Linked DNA regions of Homo sapiens. The protein of the gene in region 1 purifies or fractionates together with the protein of each later gene. This does not show direct contact. Each region holds a gene or a part of one and is shown in the gene's direction. Other genes may lie near its edges.

The links.
Region 2: the proteins of PHOSPHO1 (region 1) and CS purify together in Homo sapiens (affinity purification with mass spectrometry; one large-scale study listed by BioGRID and IntAct). This does not show direct contact.
Region 3: the proteins of PHOSPHO1 (region 1) and OAT purify together in Homo sapiens (affinity purification with mass spectrometry; one large-scale study listed by BioGRID and IntAct). This does not show direct contact.
Region 4: the proteins of PHOSPHO1 (region 1) and GOT2 purify together in Homo sapiens (affinity purification with mass spectrometry; one large-scale study listed by BioGRID and IntAct). This does not show direct contact.
Region 5: the proteins of PHOSPHO1 (region 1) and GPI purify together in Homo sapiens (affinity purification with mass spectrometry; one large-scale study listed by BioGRID and IntAct). This does not show direct contact.
Region 6: the proteins of PHOSPHO1 (region 1) and TRAP1 purify together in Homo sapiens (affinity purification with mass spectrometry; one large-scale study listed by BioGRID and IntAct). This does not show direct contact.

Annotation. Positions count from the first base shown.
Region 1 is NC_000017.11:49,225,327-49,227,787, reverse strand, and holds part of PHOSPHO1 (phosphoethanolamine/phosphocholine phosphatase), read left to right. Parts: intron 1-1,029; 5' UTR 1,030-1,096; coding exon 1,097-1,141; intron 1,142-2,010; coding exon of another isoform or gene 2,011-2,132; intron 2,133-2,461. UniProt on the Homo sapiens protein: Phosphatase that has a high activity toward phosphoethanolamine (PEA) and phosphocholine (PCho). Involved in the generation of inorganic phosphate for bone mineralization.
Region 2 is NC_000012.12:56,293,831-56,297,330, reverse strand, and holds part of CS (citrate synthase, mitochondrial precursor), read left to right. Parts: intron 1-3,500. UniProt on the Homo sapiens protein: Key enzyme of the Krebs tricarboxylic acid cycle which catalyzes the synthesis of citrate from acetyl coenzyme A and oxaloacetate.
Region 3 is NC_000010.11:124,396,803-124,399,363, reverse strand, and holds the end of OAT (ornithine aminotransferase, mitochondrial isoform 1 precursor), read left to right. Parts: intron 1-1,261; coding exon 1,262-1,422; 3' UTR 1,423-2,061; downstream 2,062-2,561. UniProt on the Homo sapiens protein: Catalyzes the reversible interconversion of L-ornithine and 2-oxoglutarate to L-glutamate semialdehyde and L-glutamate.
Region 4 is NC_000016.10:58,710,317-58,713,816, reverse strand, and holds part of GOT2 (aspartate aminotransferase, mitochondrial isoform 1 precursor), read left to right. Parts: intron 1-3,500. UniProt on the Homo sapiens protein: Catalyzes the irreversible transamination of the L-tryptophan metabolite L-kynurenine to form kynurenic acid (KA). As a member of the malate-aspartate shuttle, it has a key role in the intracellular NAD(H) redox balance.
Region 5 is NC_000019.10:34,378,696-34,382,195, forward strand, and holds part of GPI (glucose-6-phosphate isomerase), read left to right. Parts: intron 1-238; coding exon 239-310; intron 311-822; coding exon 823-867; intron 868-2,770; coding exon 2,771-2,824; intron 2,825-3,500. UniProt on the Homo sapiens protein: In the cytoplasm, catalyzes the conversion of glucose-6-phosphate to fructose-6-phosphate, the second step in glycolysis, and the reverse reaction during gluconeogenesis.
Region 6 is NC_000016.10:3,658,525-3,662,024, reverse strand, and holds part of TRAP1 (heat shock protein 75 kDa, mitochondrial isoform 1 precursor), read left to right. Parts: coding exon 1-38; intron 39-3,159; coding exon 3,160-3,232; intron 3,233-3,500.

The DNA of each region.
Region 1 (2,461 bases):
ATGTGTGGTCTGGTTGTTGTGAGGGAGGGAGTACCGCAAGATGGATATTGCTAGAGCCTGTACCCTGCTCCTGGGATGTCCCCGTCTCTGTCCTGGGGCGATTGCTTCTCCCTCCTGAATAGTCAGGGGAGAGTGTCACCTTGACAGAGGGGTTTACAGTGTCACCATTGTCACCACCAGAGGGCAGCAGCCAGCCAGACCTCTGCTTCTCTCAAGGTCTTGTCTCCTGGCTCTCTTTATCTTTCCAAATCTTGTCCCAGCTGCTTCTGGTCTCATTCAACCCCAGGAGCACAGGTGGGAGAGTAGAGAGGCACTGGAAGCTGTAGGTGGTGTCCTTTGCCACTGTCTTGGTGAAGTCCCCAAGAGGTTAAACCCAGTTCCCAAAGCCACACCAAAGTCTTGCCAAGATTTCAACCTGACTCTTCTGTGTGACTGCCGGACCCCTGAGAGCAACAGGGAGGCCATTCCCAGATCATCTGTGAGACCTGGCTGGGGGTCCCAGACCCCAGCTATGGTATAGTAAGCTTTGGTCAGCTCCTTCCTTTTTGAGGGCATGAGGAAGGCAAAGCTGCAGTCAAGCGTTCATGAAGCAGTCTATGCCCCATGTAAACAGCGTGGCTGGTTAGTTAACCTCTCTGAGCCCTTCTCATTGGCTGAATTCATGACTGATGAGTAGTGAGAGAATATGAGTGAAGGTGATTTGTAAACTATGATGTGTCAAACACATTTAAGGGACAATGATGATACTAGAGAAAAAACACTGGACTCAGGCTCAGATGTGGGTTTGAGATCTGTCTGCCATTTACAGTGGGTGACTTTTGGGAAAGTCAGTTAACTTCTCTGGGTCTCCAATACCATCTGAAACCTCTCTAGAGTTGTAGGCACTGGGCCTATTTGAGGGGTTGTTTTTGCTAAGACCCTGGGAATGCCTCCTGTAGCTCAGCAGAAGGACCAGGGCCAGGTGGGTATTCCTGGTGGAAGCAAAGTCAGCTGACTGGGCACCCTCAAATGAACTTTTGTGGTTGTCAGGAACGTGTGACGACGGCTGGAGGCCAACAGAGTCCCTACAGGTGGTGCTCACGGTAATGCACCGACAATGAGTGGCTGTTTTCCAGTTTCTGGCCTCCGCTGCCTATCTAGGGTAAGTGGGTCCCTCCAGGGGTCTCCTAGGATGAGGCCTCAGCCCCCAGTTTCCCATCACCTTTCCATAGGGCCTTGGGAGAGGCCCTATCCAGCCCGTTTTAGGTTTACCCTCACCTCTACTGGGGCTTCATTAATTCCTAGAAGCTTCCATCCCAGGTGTGGGGTCCTGATGCTTTATATCTGCAATTTGAAGGATCCTGGGCCACTGAAATGCCCACTGGATGTTGATGAGACCAGAGGGTGACTCTAGGGATGAGGTGGAAGGGACAGCTTGGTTAGGGAGGCAGATAGCCAATCGAAATCCCAGCTCCGAAATGAGGAGCTTGGGTTTCTGTTTCACAAGGTGTGCCAGGCCATAAGCACACCAGGAATATGAGAGAGGGGCTTAGGAAGAAACCAGAAAGAGAAACAATCCCATCTCAATTAACTGGGGTGGGAGCTGGGCGGGAGAAAAGCAGTGTGTGGGTATCTGGAAGCTGCATGTCACCTGCTCACTGCCCCTCTGCGCCTCTCACACACTGGCAGGCAAAGGTGATGGAAACTTGCTGCCAAGGGCTCTTGCTGCCTCCATTGCTTGCCTTTCCTTGTGCCCAGACATGTCCCCTCTTGTCCTCTGTCCTCTCCCATGCTGCCTACCACCCTCCCCTCCAACAAGAATCTGGCCCAAGGTCTCCGCTTCCTGGAACTCCCTTATCCCTACCCCTACTCTGTCTTCCTGTCCAGCAGTCTGTCTCCAAGATCCCCTAGAATGACCTCCTCTCAGCCCTCTCCTCCACACCCCCCAAGTCCCCACTACCTGGCCCCTCCCACTCCTCTGCCTTTTCAGCCACTGCTGCTCTCTTCTCTTCTCCCTTACCTGTCTCCCAGGTGTGTCATGGCCTGGTGCGGGAGGCTCTTACCTCCCCAAGCCCCACTGCTTCTCCTGCTGCCCGCTTGCTTCGGACTCTGGCAGAAACCCCACCTGCTGACACGTTCCTCCTGGGGAATTGGCAAGTGATTAGTGATGAGCTGTCAGCACAGGGCCCTAAAACTCCCCGAAGAAGCTGTGCCCCATCCCTAGACCCCTGTTCAGTGCCATTGGGCTAGAAGCAGCTCCCAGAGAGCCATAGATTCCCCATGGCCCAAAAGGAGAATGAGGAAACTGGTCCAGTTGGGTGGATGGGTGGTTGGTTTCCCTTGACTCTACCTCAGGGAATGAGGGAGGGGAGAGTTCCCACCACCCTTTCTTGATCCACACCAACAACAGGGGCCACTGGAAGTCTCCAAAACAGTCCAGTCCAGAAACCTCCCCAAAGTGGTGATCCTTGGAAGCTGCTCT
Region 2 (3,500 bases), on another chromosome or scaffold:
AAGCAATGGCCTTAGTATTATCTGTGGGTGACTCAGTTTTGTGACATCAAAAATGTCTTTTCACAGATGATCTGGGTTTGGATTTGGGCTAGGAATTGAAGTAGGGCTGCAGTTCACTTCTGGACTTTTGAAGTCAACATGCTTAACCAACCCTAGCTAAAGGGAACTGTCTCTTGAGCCACTGAAAATTGCTTCTCCAAGCTAGTATGTTTGAAACTGAGTAAATCAATTCAAAGATGTTTCTAGATTACTTCTAGACTTTTTCAAGACACTTAAATGCAAAGGAACCAATGGTTTCTTTACATTGGACTTATACCACTGTACAACATCACCTGTATAAGTCCTACTCAGAAATTGGGTTCAACAAAACCGAGTTGGTTTTGTCCTGCAAAATATTTAGTTAGGTTTTAAAGCCCAAATTTTTTAAAGGTAAGGGCTCATATCTCTGTGCCCTCACTTTGACTATCAGCCTACCCAAAGTAACGGTGATTCCTTGATACTAGAATGGCAGGGGAAGCCTTATGGGGTGTTAGTGGTGAGATGACTGCATTTGGTCTTCCCAGTGGCCTTTAGGTTGGTAGCAGGTGAATGAATGCATGGGGAGGCAGCAAGAATAGTATGGTAGGTAGCAGCGATAGAGTTGGCATTCCTGACTTAAAATCCAAGGGGCAGCAGAAGGGAAACCAGACTTGGTGGATTTCAATAAAGCCACACAATGATTCTTTCTGCCCTGTGTCAATACTTTATGCAACAGAGTAGGATGTGAAATTTAAAACCGTAATGAGGCAACTGTAGCAATAGATCTTTCTTAGCATCTGATTATCTTTCAGTTCTGGCTTCAACTGTGCTTCAACTGCACAAGTTCCTTAGTTCTCTGTTTTGGGTTTTTTTTGGGGGGTGGGGCTGGAGTGCAGTGGTGCGAACATGGCTTGCTATTACTACAGCCTCAACCTCATGGGCCCAAGCAATCCCCCCGAGTAGCTGGGACCACAGGCACGCACAGCCACGCCTGGCTAATTTTTTTGTAGTTTTTTTGGAGACAGTGTTTTGCCATGTTGTCCAGGCTGGTTTCGAACTCCTGGGCTCAAGCAATCCACCAGTCTCAGCTTCCCAAAGTGCTGAGATTACAGGCGTGAGCCACTGCACCCAGCCCTCTGTATTTCTTTTAACATGATGCTATTTTAAAAGGTCTGTAAACTCACAGTGGGCATTGTCACCTGTAATGCTTGCTTATGTTGCAGTTTCCTGGATCCTACCTTCAGATTACAATTCTGCAAAGTAGGATGGGATCTGGAAAAGTTTCTTGTAAATCCCTAAAGTGTCAGGGAGTTAAAACTTGTAAGAACTTCTTTTTTTTTTTTTTTTTTTTTTTTTTTTTTGAGACAGTTTCGCTCTGTCGCCTAGGCTAGAGTGCGGTGGCTCGATCCCGGCTCACTGCAAGATCCGCCTCTGGGGTTCACGCCATTCTCCTGCCTCAGCCTCCTGAGTAGCTGGGACTGTAGGCGCCCACCACCTCGCCCCGCTAATTTTTTGTATTTTTAGTAGAGACAGGGTTTCACCGTGTTAGCCAGGATGGTCTCGATCTCCTGACCTCGTGATCCGCCCGCCTCCACCTCCCACAGTGCTGGGATTACAGGCGTGAGCTGCCGCGCCCAGCCATAAAACTTCTACGAACTTCTAGCAGAAGTAAGGGAATAGTTTCTAATTCCTGAGAAAGTATTATGATGACAGATCCTATATTCTTTATTCACTAGTATATACTTAGTGTACACATAATAAGTAGGTGTTCAAGAATTTTTTTTTTTTCCTTGAGATGGAGTCTCGCTCTGTCACCCAGGCTGGAGTGCAGTGGTGTGATCTCGGCTCACTGCAACCTCTGCCTCCCGGGTTCAAGCTATTCTCCTGCCTCAGCCTCCCTAGTAGCTGGGACTACAGGCACATGCCACCACGCCGGGCTAATTTTTGTATTTTTAGTAGAGATGGGGTTTCACCATGTTGGCCAGGATGGTCTTGAACTCCTGACCTCGTGATCCACCCGCCTCAGCCTCCCAAAATGCTGGGATTACAGGCATGAGCCACCGTGCCCGGCCAAGAAATATTTATTAGCTAGGCATGATGGCTTATGTCTATAATTCCAGCACTTTGGGAGGCTGAGGTAGGAGGATCACTTGAGCCCAGTAGTTTGAGATCAGCCTGGCAACATAGCAAGACCTTGTCTCTTAAAAAAAAAAAAAAAGTTCATTAAATTAAAGTACAATAAGTGTTGGCCAGGCACAGTGGCTCACGCCTGTAATCCCAGCCCTTTGGGAGACTGAGGTGGGCAGATCACTTGAGGTCAGGAGTTCGAGACCAGCCTGGCCAACATGGTGAAACCCTGTCTCTACTAAAAATACAAAAATCAGCCAATCGTGGCAGCTGCCTGTAATCCCAGCTACTAGGGAAGCTGAGGCACAAGAATCACTTGAATCCGGGTGGCAGAGGTTGCTGTGAGCTGAGATCATGCCACTGCACTCCAGCCTGGGCAATAGAGTGAGACTCGTCTCAACAAAAGAACAGTAAGTGTTCCTACTGAAAGGAAAGTTTAATACTTGTGATTCCTGGCTGGGCATGGTGGCAGGCACCTATAATCCCAGCTACTCGGGAGGCTGAGGCAGGAGAATCGCTTGAACCCAGGGGGTGGAGGTTTCAGTGAGCCGAGATCGCACCACTGCACTCCAGCCTGGGTGACAGAGACTCTGTCTCAAAAAACAAAAATAGACTTGTGATTCCTTTCTGAAGATGGAAGCTGGAGGAGTATCTTTTGCAGTCCTCCTTACTGAGTGATCAGTGCATCTTTTTTTTTTTTTTTTTTTTTTTTGAGACAGAGTCTTGCTCTGTCGCCCAGGCTGGAGTACAGTGGCATGATCTCGGCTCACTGCAACCTCTGCCTCCTGGGTTCAAGCAATTGTCCTTTCTCAGCTTCCCGGTTAGCTGAGATTACAGGTGTGCGCCACCGTGCCCGACTAATTTTTGCATTTTTAGTAGAGACAGGGTTTCACCATCTTGGCCAGACTGGTCTTGAACCCCTCACCTCAGGTGATCGGCCTACCTTGGCCTCCCAAAGTGCTGGGATTACAGGCATGAGCCACTGCACCCAGCAGTGATCGGTGACTATTCACGTGAAGAGACTGTTGGAAAATGACAGTTAGGTAGAATTATTAAGGAAATGTCTGTAAGTATGAAGGAGGTCAAAGTATGAAATCTGTAGATTGCTCAGGCTTTTAAGTGGCCTGACCATGTAGTGCCAAACCGACTTCCAGTATCACCGTTGTGAAACACACACATTAAATGGCTTTAGTTCTCTGACCTGGTTCTGGGGAGAGAGGAGCCTTTGTCCTATTTGTGTTCGTGTTCTCTGAATGCAAGTTGTTCCTTCTGCATTGGAAGTGTCTGTAGTACAGGATTTTTTCCTACTGGTTATTAGTGTATTGTGTTTGCTCCATCAGCTAAGCCAGTCCTGC
Region 3 (2,561 bases), on another chromosome or scaffold:
AAAAAAAAAAAAAAAAAAAAAAAAAGAATCACCTGGGGAGCTTCTTAAAAAAATGAGTCAAAGCCTGGCCTTACCCCAGGGATTCTGATTTGACGGATCTGGGACGGGGCACAGGCATTAGCAATAGCCTTTAAGGTGATTCTGATGTGCAGCCAGGTTGAGAATCGCTGCTATAATATGTTGAGCTCAGGAAGCGAGTCCCTTTTTGGAATGTGTAGTGTTCACTGGGTTTTGAGTATTGCCCATTTTATGTCAGTTAATCATCTGTATCATACCCAAGTTCTTTTTTTTCTTTTTTAGAATTTTATTTATTTTATTTATTTTATTTTTTGAGACAGTGCCTTGCTCTGTTGGGCTGGAGTGTCTGTCGCCAGGCTGGAGTACAGTGGCATGATCTTGGCTCACTGCGACCTCCACTTCCTGGGTTCAAGCGATTCTCCTGCCTCAGCCTCCTGAGTAGCTGGGACTACAGGCATGTGCCACACCACGACAGGCTAATTTTTGTATTTTTATTAGAGATGGGGTTTCACCATGTTGGCCAGGATGGTCTCGATCTCTTGACCTCATGATCTGCCCACCTCGGCCTCCCAAAGTGCTGGGATTACAGGTGTGAGCCACTGCATCCAGCCTATACCCAAGTTCTTTTGCATTAGTTCCTTGTGTGATTAATACAGCAGCCTTAGCACATTTTTTTTTTTTTTTTTGGCTTGGTCTTTTTCATTTATGAAAAACTATGATATGTCTAATCATATCATTCAAACCTAGTTATGTGCTTGCTGAAAAGTGAAGAGTAACTTCATTTTTAGGAGTAAAAACAAAGCAAGCTTGCAGCTCCAAGCTTCCCTTTCTTTTTTTTTTGAGACGGTGTCTTGCTCTGTCACCAGGCTGGAGTGCAGTGGCGCGATCTCCGCTCACTGCAGCCTCCGCCTCCTGGTTCAAGCGATTCTCCTGCCTCAGTCTCCCGAGTAGCTGGGACTACAGGTGCGCACCATGATGCCCAGCTAATTTTTGTATTTTTAGTAGAGACGGGTTTCATAATGTTGGCCAGGATGGTTTCAATCTCTTGACCTCGTGATCCACCCACCTCGGCCTCCCAAAGTGCTGGGATTACAGGCATAAGCCACCGCTCCCAGCCCAAGCTTCCCTTAGTTGAGCAAGTTCTGTTAATTTTGTTTTGCCAGGCTGCACTTTGCCCATACATACGGCAAGGGATGTTTAAACGTTTATCTTTGAGCATGTACGTTTTACTATTTTTCTTTAGATTGGGATGCTTGGAAGGTGTGTCTACGACTTCGAGATAATGGACTTCTGGCCAAGCCAACCCATGGCGACATTATCAGGTTTGCGCCTCCGCTGGTGATCAAGGAGGATGAGCTTCGAGAGTCCATTGAAATTATTAACAAGACCATCTTGTCTTTCTGAGGGTAGCCAGCTGTTTTCAGTGGTCCCTGGGAGCCAGCTGGAGACAGGTGGTCCTGTAAAAGCTTTATTCCTAATGTGGGCACATTCCACTCCCATGAGTCTTCAAAAACTTTTTTTTTGAATATATTTTTTTCAGTTGATACATAATAGAACAACGTTTATGAACCTGCCGTTTGCTTTGTAACGTAACTAAATAATGTAATGGCATCTATATTCAGTTGAAGTGTTTTGATGTGCATGTGTACTTCCTAAGGTGAAATGCATCTATATACAGACAGCCTCTAAATCAAGTCCTTCAGTATAATTGATATATGTTTTTATAATTTCCTCACTGGTATAAGTGTTTCATATTTGAAAAAGTTATCTCTGGGTATTGCATAAAAGGCTTCATCTTATAAAGTGAAATCATTGTTATTGAATTTTAGGAAGGATTAATGGTTAAGTGTATATAAAATACTAATATTAAGTAAACTTCATATTGGCCAACACCAGGGTTGTATTCTATGGATGTCATTATTTTGAATTAAGAATTAGTGTTTAACATTCCTAAATTGTTTTGAGTGCTTGATTATAATTTGTAAAAAATGTTTATTTTCAATACTTCTTTAAATTTAAAATAAAGCTTATATTTCAAATGTCTGTTTTGTGATGATTATTCACCTTAAAAGGAAGAAGCTGAGGCAAAATTAATATAGAATGTTTAGGTGGGCCAAGGTTGGGGACTGCAGCTCGGGACACACTTCCAGGTTGCCCTGGAGAGTGCTCCAGAGAACACTTCTTAAAGAAAAAAGGATAGATCAGCTGCTCTTATACCCTCTACTGACACAAGGTGAAGGGGTGATTACAAAAGTTGTTTATCAGGAATTCTCATTGGCTTACAGAACTAACCTTGGTTAGTGATTGGCTATATGCTGTTGAACTACAGGGTATATGGCATTTGATAGATACTTGGCTTCAAGAGGTAATTATGTAGCTTGGGAGAGAGTGACCTGACTATGATTTCATTCTATTGCCTCTCTGGGCCTGATAATTTAGTTTTTATTTTTTGAGATGGAGTCTCTCTCTGTCGCCCAGGCTGCAGTGCAGTGGCACGATCTCAGCTCACTGCAACCTCCACCTCCTGGGCTCACATGATTCTC
Region 4 (3,500 bases), on another chromosome or scaffold:
ATTACTGTTTGGCCATTTACAGAAAGAATGCCAACCCCTACTCTATGAGTTCATAAAACCATGATGCCTGTGGAAGGTGTGATTTGTTATATGAGTTTATCGTATATTTGTTATATGAGCTGCTTAGTTGAGAGGTCACATCTCTGAGCAGCTCTTGGGTAGAAAAGCTAAATCTGCTATCTCTAAGAAACTTGATATGTACCTCCCCTAGTCATCATGTGACAACTATTTTTTCTGTCTCTCTGTCCCATGAAGATTAAAGTAAATACTAAGAGTCTGGTTCAGGATAGTTTTTTTTGTTTTTTGTTTTGTTTTGTTTTGTTTTTTCCTTTTGATTTTTTATAAAGACAAGGTCTCACTGTGTTGTCCAGGCCAGTCTCAAACTCCTGGGCTCAAGTCATCCTCCCACCTCAGCCTTCCAAAGTGCTGGGATTACAGCTGTGAGCCACCGCACCCAGCTCAGGGTAGTTCTTTATGGTATAATAGGTTCATGCTAGACCTACCAAAAATTTGAGTACTTTTTAAGTTATATTTTTTTGCAGCATGATATTAACATGTAAGTATATTTCAGAAAGTTTGTGAAAGGGAAAAAATTAACCATAACTCTAGCTATTCTAACTCAGCTTTTTTTTTCCCTTACCCATTGTTTGTTTGTTTTTTCTTTATTTGTTTTTTGTTTGTGTGTGTGGTTTTTTTGTTTTTTGTGTTTTTGTTTTTGAGACAGAGTTTTGCTCTTGTTGCCCAGGCTGGAGTGCAATGGCACAATCTTGGCTCACTGCAACCTCTGCTTCCTGGGTTCAAGTGATTCTTCTGCTTCAGCCTCCCAAGTAGCTGGGATTACAGGCATGTGCTACCACGCCCAGCTAATTTTGTATTTTTAGTAGAGACGGGGTTTCTCCATGTTGGTCAGGCTGGTCTCGAACTCCCGACCTTAGCACTTCGGCCTCCCAAAGTACTGGGATTACAGGCGTGAACCACTGCGCCCAGCCACCCATTGTTATCTGTAGTTGTGACATACTGTTATATATGTATGTGCAGGACTGGTTTTGGTTTTGTCACTTAGAATTATACTAAGCTTTTTTACTTAATATTTTCAATGTTTTTAAAAATATTTTCATATTCTCTGGTTATGAAGATTTTTTTTAATGCATGCATTTCAATACACAATTTGAGAGTCTGTAGTAGACAAAGATGCCAGACTGTGTTAATGACTACCCTCAGGGTGGTTATAATCTGATGAGAAAGATACACACATGACTTTCTTGTTCTTGTTGTTGTTGTTGTTGTTGTTGTTCTTGTTGTTGTTTTGAGAGAATCTTGCTCTGTGGCCCAGGCCGGAGTGCAGTGGCACAATCTCAGCTCACTGCAACCTCCGCCTCCTGGGTTCAAGCGATTCTCCTGCCTCAGGCTCCCCTGAGCTGGGATCACAGGCACCCACCACCATGACTGGCTAATTTCTGTATTTTTAGTAGAGACTGGGTTTCACCACATTGGCCAGGCTGGTCTCAAACTCCTGACCTCAATGGATCCATCCACCTCAGCCTCCCAAAGTGCTAGGATTATAGACGTGAGCCACCGCGCCTGGCCACACATGATATTTAATATAAGACAGAATGGAATAAATGATGACTAAAGGGAGAGCTGTTGATTCTAGTGGGGAGTTAGAGAAGATGTAATGAGGACTGCGGCATGTGAGCTGTGCATTAAAGAGGGGAAAGGGCTTTTTTTTTTGCAAAGGAAATGAAACGGACAAGGAAACTGGGGAGAGATCTGAGTGAGGGCATAGGCGTGGGACGTGCATTATGCAGAACTTGTGTAGAAAGCCCCAAGTTGTTTTCGTGATGAAAACACGAATGTGAGGAGGACTGTGGGAGACAGCCAAGCTGAGAAGGTGGAGCAGATCGTGAAGCACCCTGGTTGATACTGTAAGAAGTCAACACTTGATTCTCCAGGCAACAAGGAGGATGGAGGGGTTTGGCTAAGATGGCTCCACATCTAGCCCTGTTCATGCACTCAATATCTTTGGGATCCAGGCCTCAAAGTGAATGAAGCTGGACGATGGAAACTGTAGGAAATTTAAAATCAGATGCCATAACTGGAGGGGCCAGGGGCTCCTCAGCTCCAGCCAGTAATTATTTTGCTAATACAGTGCTATCGTTTCTCATTTTTCAAGAGAAACTACAGGTTTCAGCTTTTAGGCACAAGTGCCCAATTTAAAAACGTTTCACTGGGTGAAGTAAAACATTACTAGGTCCCATATTTGGTCTTTAATTGGCAGTTTGTGATCTCTCTTCTAACCGTGCATAACATCATTATACAGAGATGGTTTAGGAAAGTGAACACCTAAGAACAGGGAGATAAACTGTAAATGGGAATGTCATTGGTGAGAGCCAAGAATGTCCCAGAGCCATGGGAATGGAGTGGAAAGGGTAGATTCTGAGGAAGGGGAAGGTTGTATTCAGAATCAGGTGATCCCCGTGCACAGTCAGAGGACTACCTTCTCCAGTCCCTCAGACAGAATTTACTCTCCTTGGGGCTTTTAGCATAGCAGTGTCCTATGTGTTTTACATTTTGTGGCCGTATTCCATACTTGGTTTACAGGTTTGGTTACAAGCACCCCTTGCAAGCTTTTGAAGGCAAGGACTATGTCTCAGTCCTCACCACCTAAAATAGCTTGGCTCATTGTAGATTCATAGTACATTGTCTCAATTGTGAAGATGGGAATGTATATTTCATCCATGTCAAAAATAAGGTCATTTTTTTTTTTTGTTTAACCCACAGCTTTTACCTTAATCTTAGTAGGTTTTAGAGTGATTCATTCACTTTTCTTTTTTTTTTTTTTTTTTTTTGAGACAGAGTCTTGCTCTCTCACCCAGGCTGGAGTGCAGTGGCGCCATCTCCGCTCACTGCAAGCTCTGCCTTCTGGGTTCACACCATTCTTCTGCCTCAGCCTCCCCAGCAGCTGAGACTACAGGCACCCGCTGCCACGCCCGGCTAATTTTTTTGTATTTTTATTAGAGACGGGGTTTCACCGTGTTAGCCAGGATGGTCTCGATCTCCTGACCTCGTGATCCGCCCGGCTAATTTTTTTGTATTTTTAGTAGAGACGGGGTTTCACCGTGTTAGCCAGGATGGTCTCGATCTCCTGACCTCGTGATCCGCCCGCCTGGGCCTCCCAAAGTGCTGGGATTACAGGCGTGAGCCACCGTGCCCCGCCCACTTTTCTTAATACAGATGCAATTATGATGGGGTTACATCCCAATAAGCCTGTCATAAGTCAGAAATGCATTTAAGGCCAGGCTTATGTCTGTAATCCTAGCATTTTGGGAGGCCAAGGTGGGAGAATCACTTGAGCCCAGGAGTTCCAGACCAGCCTGGGCAAAATGGGGAGACCCTGTCTCTACAAAAAAAAAAAAAAAAGAAAAGAAAATTAGCAAGGCATGGTGGAATGCACTTGTGGTCCCAGCTACTTGGGAGGCTGAGGCAGGAGGATCACTTGA
Region 5 (3,500 bases), on another chromosome or scaffold:
GAGAAGCTGCGGCCTTTGACCTGCAGGCTTAGGGTTGGGGGGTGTGTTTACCGTCCCCCCTCCTCTGGTTTTAAAGAGCTGGAATCTCAGGAGGTTATGTGGCGTCACTGTCACTGACCTGCAAATACTGCTCCATGGGACAGCTGGGCATTGCCTTGGCCTCTACTGCTGAACCCTGGCTCAAGGCCTGCACCCACCCCTAAGCTCGGGCGCCCACTGCTGTTCTCTTTGGTTGCAGACCTTTACTACCCAGGAGACCATCACGAATGCAGAGACGGCGAAGGAGTGGTTTCTCCAGGCGGCCAAGGATGTGAGTGGGCTATAGGGCCTTCCTCGTGGTTAGCCTCTGGGCTGGGAAGAGCAGGGTGGGCCCCTGAGTGACCAAGTCTGGCCGTGTTTCTCCTGAAGTTGGAAGTGAAGGCGGCCTTGCCGGTGCCTGCCTTTGCTAGATGAGATGATTGTTCATCTTGGCTTTGTCAGACCCAGCCTTGCAGATGTGACAGAACCTGCTCTCGCTGGCTGACAGCCCTTGCATGGCCCTTTCTCTGCAGGCCCTTGGCGCTGCAGGAACTCTTGGCCACACCTATTTTATAGGGGAGGGACGTCCCTGAGCCCCGTATGCTTGTAAGATGGGATGAGCAGGCGGCCTGTGACCCGTCTGCTTTCTTGACCTTGACCTCGATGTGGGCCTTCTCCAACAGTCTCAGAACCAAGGACTGGGAATCTCAGTCCCATGCAGGGCCTTGGTTCCTCTAGTGATGGGAAGTGACTACCCTTTGTCTCCCTGGGCTGGCTGTGGTAACTTGGCTCTGTCTCTTGTAGCCTTCTGCAGTGGCGAAGCACTTTGTTGCCCTGTCTACTAACACAGTAAGTGCCCCCGTGGTCCCCTGTACTGCCTTCCTGGGAGTGCCCAGCATGTCCAGGTCATGGCCTCTCAGAGACGCGGTTCGTAGGTCTGGTGGATCTTGGCTTGGCTGATGGTATGGAAGGTTTGGTTGCCTGTGGGCTGCAAGCCTTCCTTGCCTTTTCCGCATTTACCCATTCAACCTCTGCAGCTTTGAGGAGGGAGGCTTGGAGTCAGTGGGATCACGATAACCCCTTCTTCCGTCTCCCAGGCCTGACTGATACACAGAACCCTTCATACACATGACCTTCCTAGGCCTTTGTGCCCAGCATCTCCCCAAATGTGACATGCTAGGTAGGGGTAGAGGATGCATTCCATTTTTCACTTAAGGACATAAAGCCCCAATGAAGGGAGGTGACATTTTGCCCCCTACTTAGTGTGTGTGGTTTTGTTTTTTTTTTTTTTTTTTTTTTTTTTAAGACAGTCTCACTCTGTTGCCCAGGCTGGAGTGCAGTGGCGTGATCTTGGCTCACTGCAACCTCTGCCTTCCAGGTTCAAGCGATTCTCCTGCCTTAGCCTCCCGAGTAGCTGGGATTACAGGTGCACGCCACCATGCCCAGCTATTTTCGTATTTTTAGTAGAGACGGGGTTTCACCACGTTGGCCAGGCTGGTCTCTGACTCCTGACCTTAAGTGATCTGCCCACCTCAGCCTCCCAAAGTGCTGGGATTACAGGTGTGTGCCACCATGTCCAGCTTATTTTTTGAGACAAGGTCACTCTGTCACTCAGGCTAGAGTGCAGTGGTACGATCTTGGCTCACTGCAACCTCTGCCTTCTGGGTTCAAGTAATTTTTATGCCTCAGCCTGCTGATTCTGGGATTACAGGCGCCCACTACCACGTCCAGGTAATTTTTGTATTTTTGGTAGAGACAGGTTTTCTCCATGGTGGCCAGGCTGGTCTCGAATTCTTGACCTCAAGTGATCTGCCCACCTCGGCCTACCAAAGTGTTGGGATTATAGGCATGAGCCACTGTACCCGGCCCACTTAGTGACTGTATGAGTAGGTGATGCCAGGATTAGAACCTGGGTCTCCTGTCTCCAAGTTCTCACAGTCTGCCTGGCCTCGAGGTTGTGCAGGCTCAGCAGGGCATGACAGAGTGAGGGATGCTCCAGGAGTGACAGCAGCAGTCAGCCAGTGGGCACTGTGCTGTGTCAGAGCTGGGGACTACACCCACATCTCCCTCCCACCCCCTCCACCATCATCCCCACATCTCTGCCTCCAGTGCCTACCCAGCTGCAGCAGGACGCCATAAGGCTGGCTAACCATAGCACTGTTGCCTGCCTGCAACTGACTGGTCAGTAGGGCTTCTCCTCCTATGTGGAATAGGTAAGGAATTGCTGGCCCTGTCTGCCCTGGGGACCAGAATACCTGATGGCTCCTCAGAGCTTCCTGGTGCAGTCACCCTCCCACACATGGGAAGGGCTGGGTGGCTGTTCAGCCTGTGTTTGTTTGCCTGGCCTGGTAGGTGGCCCCTGCCCACACTTGGGTCCCAGTCCTAGGTTCGGTTCCCAGATGTCCAGGGGTATCATGCTCTGGTGTCCCAGGCAGGCCTGGGTGAGAGCTGTTGCAGAGCAGTGTGTGGGCCAGGTCCTCACACGGGGTTACAGCTGCCCTCAGCAGGGGGCTTTGCAGGCACAACGTCACTGGCGTGCTGGTCATGGACTGATCTGGTGTCCAGCTTGGGGTGGGCAGATCCTGGGCCCTGCCCTCGACTCACAGGCTGCTCCAGCCCTGCCCCATCCCTGGCTCTGGGGAAGGTGAGGCTCAGCTCACGGAGCACAGCTCCCTGCCTCCCGGAGCTCCTGTTCCCATCCCGCTAGCAAATGCTTCTTTGCATTTCTCTCCCTTTGTTTTTTTTTTTGTAGACCAAAGTGAAGGAGTTTGGAATTGACCCTCAAAACATGTTCGAGTTCTGGGATGTAAGTACAAGCACTTCTGCACTGGGTGAATTAAGTGTCCTTTGCCAAGTCATGGCTGTTGAGAGGCCCATGAGGTCAGGTCAGTGTTTATTGAGTACCTGCTGCATACCTAGCTTGGGGAAAGGTAGAGAGGCCCTCAGAGAGGCTTGGAGGGCAAGAGCAACCCAGGCAGGATGAGGGCTCCACTTCCACCTGAGGGCGGGCTGAGCTTGCAGGGCCACATGACACTCCCTTGGGTGCCTGCCTGCAACACCCACTGTGGGGTAACCCGAGTCCCCCTTGCCACGCTCACAGAGTTGAGGTTGTGAGTTATTCTCAGTGATGACCTTTCTCTGAACTGCAGCCACCATCTGTAAAGGCCAAGGGCAGGGTGAGGCATGAGGTATGACCGGGTAGGCCTGGAAAGGAGCAACAGGAGCTGCAGGAGGAGCTGGGGGGGTGGCGTAGAGGAGGCGCCAGGCTGGGGCAGCTTGCAGAGCAAACCCTGCCTTGAGTGACAGGGCTGCCGACCCCTCTGTAGCAACAGGTGGTCCATGGGACCACCTCTGCTGGAGCCGAGCAGTGAGCCACAGCTTTCCTTGTGCACTTGCCTGAGCTCAGCAGTGGTGTGAGGAGGGCTCTGACTGTGAAGCCCAGGGTGCAGGGGTGCAGTGCAGGGTGTGATGCAGGCACTGTG
Region 6 (3,500 bases), on another chromosome or scaffold:
GCACAGCTCCTGCAGCCCACGCTGGAGATCAACCCCAGGTGAGGCCACGCTCCTGGCTCTTCCAGCCTGTGGGATTCCCCAGAATCCTGTGTGTGGTGTTCTTTTGTTGTGGAATGTGACACAGAAGAAAAGTGCGTGAGGCCTGTGGACATGTGGGTAACTATAAGGAGCTGTATGCAGTTTAGGCTGCACCCATGTGAAATGGAACCTGGCCAGCCCCTTACCATCCCCAGGTGTCACCTGGGAGGTTAGCCACATCCCAGCCTGTGACCATGTCCTCGTTTTGCTTTATGGCTTTGCCACCTGTGCGTGTCCTGGACATGCTCAGTTTTGCCTGTTTTGAGCTTTGTACGTGGATCTTGGTGTTTGCTGAAGTCTCACGTTGCTCACTTGGCATGAGGGTTGCCCATGCAGAGGGGCTGCCACAAGTTCATTTTCATAGCCGAATAATGTCCGCTGCAGAAACCCACCTCGGCACAGCAGACTGCTCCGTTCTGCTCTGCTGGGCCTCCGGTGGTTCTTGGTCAGAAGTTGTGGAGAGCCAGGCTGCTCTGAGTATTCTTGTCCACGTGTCTGGGGCTTGTGTGGGTTTCTCTGTGGCCCCGGTGGTGGGAGCTGCTTCCAGGGTGCACCGAGAACCCCCCAGCCCTGACAGTGGCTGAGCCGTAAGATTTCCCTCGTTTCTTCCTGTTGTTCTTTATATGCCCTTTATCTGTTGTAAATGTCTTTTCACCTGCCTTTAGGTATCTTTTGAGTTTCTTTCTTTTTACAGTATCACTTCTTTGCACCCATGAATGTGATCTATTTAGGTCTTTAACATCCTTTGGTACCTTACATTCTCTGTAGGGTTCTGGTACCATTTTTAAAGAATTATTCTTTGATGTGTCTTATGGGGTATTTTAAAATTTCATTTTCTAACTTGTATATGAACTAACTTGTATATGAAGTTTCTTTTTTGGGGGAAATTTTGAATGTAGCAATTTTTTAAAAAATGAAGTTACATAAACATGTTACCAAAAATAGAAAACAGCAAAAAGGAAATCAAAATCCATAGACTTACCACCCCCCCCACAATGTAGCCTAAGTAGTATTTTAATTTTTGAGACAGGGTCTCACTCTGTCCCCCAGGTTGGAGTGCAGTGGGGCAATCTCAGCTCACTGCAACTTCTACCTCCTGGCCTCAAACAATCCACCTGCCTTAGCCTCCCGAAGTGCTGGGATTACAAGTGTGGGCTACCACCCCCAGCCAGTTTTTGTTTTGTTCTTTAGTACATGTCTAGTTTTTTTCTTTTGTCATTTTACAACCATAACTTTTAAAATTATACTGGAGGCGAGGGAGATGCATCTTCCTAGCCATGGCACTCCTGGGGAAAGGCTGACTTGGCTTATGGCTGTCAGTGCACAGCAGCGCCAGTATGCAGAATGCCTGTGCCTCTGCTGGAGCAGCTCAGTGAGGCGGACACCAGGTCACTTTAACTAGTTTTGGTGGCAAACTAGTTTTGTGAGATAGCTGCAGAAGTGCTCGTTTCTGTCTGTTGCCACTTCACTTTTGGAGACAGGGTCTTGCTCTGTCACCTAGGCTGGAGTGTACCAGTGGCGCCATCAGAGCTCACTGCAGCCTTGGCCTCCCAAAGTGGTGGGATTACAGGCGAGAGCCACTGTGCCCAGCCAGCTTCACTTTCATTTGTTTTAAAATTTGGTGTTCTGTCCACATAGTTCAGAATTCAAAACTGCTTACAGGGGAAAATTTCCTCCTACCTGTGTCCCCAGTGCAGCCAGCATTAGGGCTTTTGTATTTCTGCAGAGATTATGTGCATTTGTGGGCAGCTGCGCCCGTGGGCTTCCAAGGGGGAACTTGCTGTGCAGTGGGTCCTTGCCTTGCTTTTCTCCCTTAGGGTAACTAGGTGACCTCCACATTAGCATATTAAGAATGTCCTTTTTTTCCAGCTACGTAGACTAGAAATGTGAGGATGTGCATTTGAAGTGTTTCCTCTGTTAGGTTGGGTGCGGTGCCTCACGCCTGTAATCCCAACATTTTGGGAGGCCTAGGCGGGTGGATCACTTGAGGTCAGGAGTTCGAGACCTCATCTCTACTAAAAATACAAAAACTAGCTGGGGGTGGTGGTGGGTGCCTGTAATCCCAGTTACTTGGGAGGCTGAGGCAAGAGAACCTCTTGAAACCAGGAGGCTGCGGTGAGCCAAGATCATGCCATTTCACTCTAGCTTGGGTGAAGGAGTGAGAGTCTATCTATCTATCTATCTATCTATCTATCTAAAAAAAAAAGTGTTTAAAGGGATGCAGTTAGGAAATGGAATGGCTGAGTCTCAGCATATCATCCACATGTGGTTTTCCCGACTCCAGTTGTCCTCTGGAGAGGTTGTACAAATTTACAGTTCCCCAGAGCCCTCGGTTTTATCAGACTTCTAAGTGAAAAATTATAATATTCATGTTAAGGTTAAATACTACATGATGCTTTTTCCTATGCAGAAAAAAATATTGTTCTGACGTCAAATATGTCAATCATTCTTTACTTTTTGGTTTGTGGTTTTGCTTGGAAAGGCTTTCCCCTTCTGAGATGATGAAACATTTCTTCCCTAGAATTGTGCTTGTCATCTTTGATCCCTCTGGAATTTACTCTGGTCTAAATGGTTTTCTGCATGGCTCCCAGTCATCCCAGTGCTGCTGGATGGAGTGATCTGTCTCCTCCCTCTTCTGTGAAATACTGTCCTCATCAGACACTCAGTGTCCACCCTCGTTACATGGAGTTGTTTGCCTTCCCCCTTTCCAGACCTAAACTGTTTTATTTACTAGAGCCCTATAATATGTTTCAACATGTGGGTCTTACTCCCTTCTCTTTTATTATTTATCTAGGAACCAAGGCATGTCTTCACGTACTAAGCTCCTTTTGTCCCTTTAGTGTATATTAATCTTGGAGTTTGGCTACCTTACAGCATTTTCTAATACTGACACTCCTGATTCTCTTGGGTTTTCTGGGTATATAATGATATTATCTATAAATGATCATTAACATACCTTATTTAAAAAACTACAGACAGTCTTACTGTGCTTCTTTAAATATCCTGATAATCCCAAAACATGAAGGGAGGGTCACAGCACGTGGTACTGAGCTGCTTTTTCTGGTGGGTTCTGTGTTGCAGGCACGCGCTCATCAAGAAGCTGAATCAGCTGCGCGCAAGCGAGCCTGGCCTGGCTCAGCTGCTGGTGGATCAGGTGAGTGCAGCAGCTTAGGATGACTGCAGGGACCCAGGCTACCAGCCCTGCCAGCCTGCCTTCAGGGTGGAACAGCGGTTTCCTCTAAAATCCTGTCTTTTTGTTTGTTTGTTTGTTTTTTGAGATGGAGTGTTGCTCTGTTGCCAGGCTGGAGTGCAGTGGCGCGATCTTGGCTCACTACAACCTCTGCCTCCCGGGTTCAAGCAATTCCCCTGCCTCAGCCTCCCGAGTAGCTGGGACTACAGGCATGCGCCTGGCTAATTTTGTA